2 linked regions of the Homo sapiens genome follow. The protein of the gene in region 2 interacts with the protein of the main gene of each other region in a pairwise test. Each region holds a gene or a part of one and is shown on either strand. Other genes may lie near its edges.

Region 1 (3,211 bases), on a different chromosome or scaffold from region 2:
TACAGAACTTTGTGCCTATTTTATTCCTCTATTTATTCTTCTAGGAAGAAGCCTCTTCCTAGAATCTTGAAATAGATCCCTTGACTGAATGCCAATTCCTCTCCTGTTTTTCAAATGAGAGAACCTTTTCTGATCACCTTGACCTTTTCCCTCATTTCATATGTCTTCCCAGAAAGTAGACAGACTGCTCTGCTGCCTTCAGTCATTGTGCCTCATTTGGGTTGTCCCTCCTTCTTTGTGGAGAAATCTGGAAATGATGCACAGTGTATCCAAAAGTTGTGGGATGAAGTGGATGAAAGTGATTTAATTCATTTTTAGAATTTTTTTTTGTTTTGTTTTAGCAACATGCTGAACAACTAATTTACTTTAAAAATAAGCCAGTTAAAACAAAGGACGCTAAGCCCAAGTGGGGGGCAATATTAGTCAGGATCTTTGGGGTCTAATTCCAGACCAACTTTCAGAAGCACTTCTTTGTCTCTGTTCTCACCTCTGCTGTCCCTCTCTTCCCTCATCCCCTAAGAGAGACAAAGATAAAAGCCCACCTGCATCCCTAAGTCTTACTGAGATCAGCCACCCCAGGGGAGAGAAACTGGATCTACTTACAGCCACCCCCTGTTTCCATCCATATAGTTACTTCCCCCAATTTGCATGTGATTATGGAAACAAGTCATGCTCATGAAAGCAACTGTAAAATAAAAGGTTATGGAGTAGTTCAGCAACTTCTTCACAGCCAGCTTTGTGGAGCTGGGGAGGACTTAGGGCCCATTGGAGTCTCTTATGTGTACAGCTTCAGGGCTGTCCCTTTCAGTTTGATTTTAAGCAATGCCTCACTTCATAGCTTAGGGGGTAAGGATTCCATTCAGGTAGGTTGTCTAAAGGAACTAATGGGACCTCTCAGTGAATTAGCTGACCAGATTTTAGGAAATCTTTTTAATTTCTATGATTTTCCTTCTCACATTTTGAAATGGTAAAATTGACTGGAAATAATTTTTCTTGGTGCCTTATTGGTTTTCCTTGCAAACCTTTCTCATATTTTCTCATGACCATTGCCAGTGACCAAGGCCCATGTGTGTGTTGTGTGTAATTGTGGGCATGTACAAGCTTAAATAACGTGCCGACAGCACTGTTTCAAAGTTGGTATTCATTAGGCTGTTGCCTCCTGGGCTGGAGCTGCGCTAATCCTGACACCGGCTGCCAGGAGAAAACCTCATGGATCACACACCAAACCTTAATAACAGCATCCGTGACCTGCACTCTCCAGTACAGAATGGGAACCCCAGAGCTAGGAAATGTAGTTGTATATTTTAATGAACTGCTACCCCAGCCAAAGAAGCTTCTTTCACTTTTGTGCTCTACAGAAAGCCCAAGGGGGGTAGGAGGGACAGAGCTTTGAATAACTGCTTTCTAACACTAAATGTGGCCAACAGGACAGAGCACATCACACGTATAGGCAGGTGTGAGGGACAGTGGCTAAGAATTGCCTGCTCCCTCTGCATGCTCTTTCTTGTTTCCAAAGTCCAATCAAGTGATCCTGGGAAACAAATCTGTCTGGATTGCGGAGGGTGGTTCTGAAAGAACTGCCAAGACGTTAAAGAAGGGTGAAGAGTAGGCAGAATATAAGTAGCTAACCTGAGTCAAGACTCTCAAAAGCTAGCAGCCTGATGACAATAGGATTTATTTCAGCCAGGATAGTGTCTGTCTGTGAGTGCATCATTTTAAGACAGTATGACTTCATGTTGTTACAAACTATGTATAGTATGTATGTTTTGTGGGTTGTATATATACATAATATATATTATATATATATATGAGAGATTTGGTGACTTTTGATACGGGTTTGGTGCAGGTGAATTTATTACTGAGCCAAATGAGGCACATACCGAGTCAGTAGTTGAAGTCCAGGGCATTCGATACTGTTTATGATTTCCATATATGTATAGTGCCTATCCCATGCTGTAGTCACTGTTATGTTAAATCCAGAAGTTACACTAGAGCCAGCGATACTTTATTTGTAGACAATCAATTTGAATCCATATGTTATTACTGGCAGATGATACATGATTACAGTTCTGAATCTGTAACACTTACAAAAGGAAACCCAGAGCAGCTTGATGAGTTTTTGTTTCTGCTTCGTTCCTGGGAGTCAGTAGAAACAGCAGTTGTATGTGGTTATGTTAGTCTCAAGATACTTAATTTGTTGACCTTACTTCAGAAAAATTTTGTATGTATTATATTTGTGGGAAGGTAAAATAATCATTTGAGATTTTTATCAAATATGAAGATTAGTTATTTATGAAAAACAAAGAAATGTCTATTTTTCTTTGTTCCCAATTAATGTAGATAAATTTTAAAATGCATTAAAGTAATGGTAAAGACAATAAAAAGATGCTGTAGAAGTCTTTTTCTCCTCATGTTTTTATAGAGAGACATTGCTTTCTAAGAGTATTCGAGGAGATAATACGGATTCTAACTTCATAATCAGGTTTTTCAGATGTACTTAAAATATAAGCAGCAAAAATTTTATTAGTAAGTAAAATCAAGCAAATTCCAATCACCAGAAACAGAACTAGTTAAGAAACATGTTTTACTTGAATATCTTTCCTAGGTCTCACTCCTGCCGATCCTGTGATTGTCTCATGAGTCACTTGATGAAGGCAGATACGTGGAAGAACAGAGACTTTGCCTGAGATTGCGTTCTATTTTATAAACCCTCCATTTACACTGAACCAATTTGATTAGAGATGATGCTGTTTTGTGCGTCCGGTTGGAGGGCAGGAACTCCCAAAACTTTGTCATCCAGCAGTTGGATCTGCAACTTGGTATTGCGCTCTAAATACAAGTCAGGGAGCCCAGAAGAGACAGTAACACTGACTGAGCTGGCTCTTCCCTGTTATCTGGACAGATGCTTAGTAAGCCTGAGATACTATTGTTGGACCACCTACTGATGCTGCTTTGGCAAAATGCAGATTAGCCACCATCTACCAAACACCACCTCATTTTAATGCCTGGGATGTCAGTGTTCTCCACCAACGCTCTGAGACATAAGTATGTGGGAGAACATGGGTAATTAGCTTAAAATATTTGTAGGAGACAACATAAATCCAGTAAGAAGTTAGCATTATGAGAGTGTGTAATTCAATGTCAAGGTGAACACTAGGAAGTTTATTACATTGATGCATAAGGTAGTTAGGAGAGGCAGACTAGAAAATAT
Region 2 (3,827 bases):
ACTCAGTGACTCAATGCTTTGCTGTTACCCTACCCAAATTTCCTCACACACTAGCCCCAAGAAAATATGCAGCCAAAGATGTTCACTAACTTTTAAGATTATGCTTGGGCCATTATTGTCACAGTTGCAAGTTCAAATTTTATTACCGGTTTTCAAGTTCAGAGATGTCTGTCTGTAGCTTAAGATACCACTTCTCAGCTTGTGCAAACAGCTGTCGCAGAAGTAACACATTGGTATAGGCAGTGTTGATGAGCTCAGATTCCACCTCACTATGAACCACAGCTTGTAATCCATTGAGGACTTCAGAGACTTCATCTATGGTGAAGGTGTCCTCCACCAGCCTGAAAAACAACCATGATCCAAAACTTATAGAAAAACAACAAGAAAAATCTACAAAATACAGCAAAATTAAGAAACCCACATTCATGTAATCTAAGAAATTCAAAGATTACAGTGAAAATCTCTCTGGGAACTATCTTCTTTATTAATAAACATTGAAAATAATTTAAACTCAATTAATTTTTGACATCTATTCAAATGATTAAATTGTGCACATCCTTTAATACAAGTAAATGCTCAAACACATTCCCAAAACCATCATCTACTTTTTTAACTTTTTAGTATTAAATGTCTTATTTCAAACTCCACTGAAATCAGTCTTATTACATTTAATAATTTCAAAAGTCACCCGGAAGGCATAGTCTCATTTCTTTCTAATATTTCTCTAACATTTTAATAACTGTATGAACTATTCACAGGTTAGTAAACGTCTATGGGAAATAAATGGTAATTATATATATTGCTTCTCTTTGCATTCTTGAGACCCAAAATAATAATAATAATAAAAACTAGCTTATCTTAAAGTTCTACTGAACACTCCACAAAAATGAATATCATCATCAACAATAGCATTAGAAATCTACTCTCAGGGCCAGGCATGGTAGCTCATGCCTGTAATCCCAGCACTTTGGGAGGCAGAGGCAGGTGGATCACTTGAGGTCAGGAGTTCGAGACCAATCTGGCCAACACAGCAAAAACTCTTCTCTATTAAAAATACAAAAAATTACCTGGGTGTGGTGGCACGTGCCTTAATCTTAGCTACTTAGGAGGCTGAGGCAGGAGAATCGCTTGTAACCAGAAGGTGGAGGTTGCAGTGAGCCGACATCATGCCACCGCACTCCAGCCTGGGCGACAAAGTGAGACTCCGTCTCAAAAAAACAAACAAAAAAACAAAACTACTCTTACATAGAGAATGCTTGGGTTGGAAGAGAACTTTGGTGCCATCTTCTACAATCCCCTAACTTTACAGATAGGAACACAGGTTTGAAGAGTGGAGATGACTTGCCTATGGTTACATTGGTGGTGACTAAACCCCACAATCATCTTCAGCAATGATTCTGGGCAAAGGATTCATGCCCAACAGCTAAATCCTTGAAAAAGCTTCTGTGTGTGCCTTCCAGTTTCAATGACAGTATCACAGTAACACAGTCCTCTCCTCTCCCTACCTCTACCCTCCAAAGTCCCTTCTCCCTCAGATTCTCAGCAGATGAAGAGCAGCTACCGCAACCTCAGCTTTATTTTCTTCCCTACTTCCAAAAAGACATCATCAAGCAAGACCCAGTTACACTAAAGCATTATCATAGTTAAACTCAAGTTAATAGTATTTGTTTTATAATTCTTTAATGTTTCATCTAGCCAGCAGAATTTAGTCATTCTCAAAAAACCACAACTTTTTAAATATAAATCCTTATTAAAATATTAATAATCTTTCTATATTCTTCAATAGAACATATGTTCTCGCCAATTAAATTGTTGCTTTCATCTGCTGGGGGATAGGAAACCAGATTACCAGATGAGTTTAATGGACTGAATGGTCTAAGGCTGATGGCCTCTAATACTGAGACATTCATGAGTTTATGGCAGCTGGAGCTCACTTGGAGGTCTTTTTCACTTATATCTGACTTGACATTCATCTCTTGCTACAAATCAGCTACGGTCCAACCATTATCATCTCATGCTAGAAATCAACTAACAATTTTGGTACTAGTCAGCATTATGATTTCCTGCTGTTTTCCTCTCTACTAATTATTCAGTATGAAACACAGAAGTGTTTTCTCACTAATTGCCATGTCTTATAGCTCTAACCATTTAATTAATAACTCAAGTAATTAAAGTTCTGGAATCTTCAATACAACAAGCCAATCATTAATCCACAAACCCTTGGCAACTTCCTTCTCAAACTCTGCCATCCTACAATTATCCTACAATTATCACATGCATTTCTGACAATAGATTCATTGCTTTCACCACAATACAACTTCTTTTGTTTCCTGTATCCATGAGGCTTAGTGTAGCTGCTCTTAGCAAATAATTGATCATGATGAATCCCAGAAATTGTCTGGCCTCTGCTATGGCACCCCCATACTGGCTACCAGAAAGAATCCATGTTCCTATTTGGTTTGCTTAGAGTCCTCCTCTGATACCTGCTCTCCTTGAGGTCTTGGAAGCAGGAATCTACAGTTTTGAGTCTCAAGCCTCTCTTTGAACGAGCAAAACGCATATAATTAATAACTTCATTTTGATGGTGCTCATTTAGGCCCAACTCTGCCTGAAAAAGAAAGAGGTAATTTAATTGTTAGTTTTGAAGATCTGATCAAAGAGCCAACAATGAAAATGCATAAGATATCCTGTGGTCGAGACTGCTAGATCTCCATCAAATTCTATTCTTCCCTTCTTCCTGGCTGCATGGCTGCCCACCTAGATGACACTTCCTTGCCCTCCTTGCAATCAAGTCACTGCTGACTACTTCTCAGCAATGAATGTTGTGGTCTACTTCCAAAGACCTGGTCTTAAGATATGGGGTGTACCTCTGCCCCTCCCTGTTTCTCTGAAACCTGGAAGAGGTGGCGACTTGACTGAATCATGCAGACAACATCAATGCCCTAGAGGCTGGGGGAGCCGCAAGATGAAAGGGCCCCACGTCTCTACCTCATGGAGAGGCACTGACCCTCTCACTGAACTGAGATGAGCAGTGAGATGGCTGTTAAGTGAGAGCGAAATAAACTTCTGTATTCTTCAAGCCACTTAACCTTACAGCAAAAAACAGCAACTCTGTTATAGCAGCTTAACCCTTACCCCATTAAATACAGCTTTAACAAGTATATTTGATTTGGAAAGAACCACTAACTGGTCTGTACTTTAAACCAGATGACAGCTTGACAAATATTTAAGAGGCAAGCCCATGGAGGTAGGGCTAGCACCCAAATAACAGAGCAGGTCAGCAGTCAGCTAAGAGCAAGGCATCAGCCATGTTAGTTGGATTTGTAATTAAGCTGCTGATGAGATTTACAAAGCAGTTTAGGTGGCATAAGTCTTTAAGGTCTGGAGGATAGAATGGAGATAGCAAGAGTTGAAGGGAAGCAAAAGGGAAATCTCTAAGGTACTCAAGTACAACAGGTTACAGTCATATATGCACTTGAGTTGTGAATAACAAGACAGATTTCTATTACACACTAAAAATAATTGACTACCTACATTAGAGACAATATTATCTCTGATAGTCACACATTAGTATGGGCAAGAATATCCCACAATTTAGAAATATCACAAAACAATGTCACAATTTGCTAAAAACAAAGCATAAATACAGATTCTTTTTTTTTAGAGACGGAGTCTCGCTCTTTCACCCAGGCTGGAGTGCAGTGGCGCAATCTCGGCTCACTGCAAGTTCCGCCTCCTGGGTTCATGCCATTCTCCTGCCTCAGGCTCCCGAGTAGCTGGGACCACAGGCGCCCACCACCACGCCTGACTCATTACTTGTATTTTTA

Evidence for each region.
Region 1: the proteins of LZTFL1 (region 2) and FZD5 interact in a two-hybrid assay, tested with the Homo sapiens proteins (one large-scale study listed by BioGRID and IntAct).

The regions. Positions count from the first base shown.
Region 1 is NC_000002.12:207,761,771-207,764,981, reverse strand, and holds the end of FZD5 (frizzled-5 precursor), read left to right. Parts: 3' UTR 1-2,384; downstream 2,385-3,211. UniProt on the Homo sapiens protein: Receptor for Wnt proteins. Functions in the canonical Wnt/beta-catenin signaling pathway. In vitro activates WNT2, WNT10B, WNT5A, but not WNT2B or WNT4 signaling. In neurons, activation by WNT7A promotes formation of synapses.
Region 2 is NC_000003.12:45,835,444-45,839,270, forward strand, and holds part of LZTFL1 (leucine zipper transcription factor-like protein 1), read right to left. Parts: intron 2,609-3,827; coding exon 2,484-2,608; intron 342-2,483; coding exon 147-341; intron 1-146. UniProt on the Homo sapiens protein: Regulates ciliary localization of the BBSome complex. Together with the BBSome complex, controls SMO ciliary trafficking and contributes to the sonic hedgehog (SHH) pathway regulation. May play a role in neurite outgrowth. May have tumor suppressor function.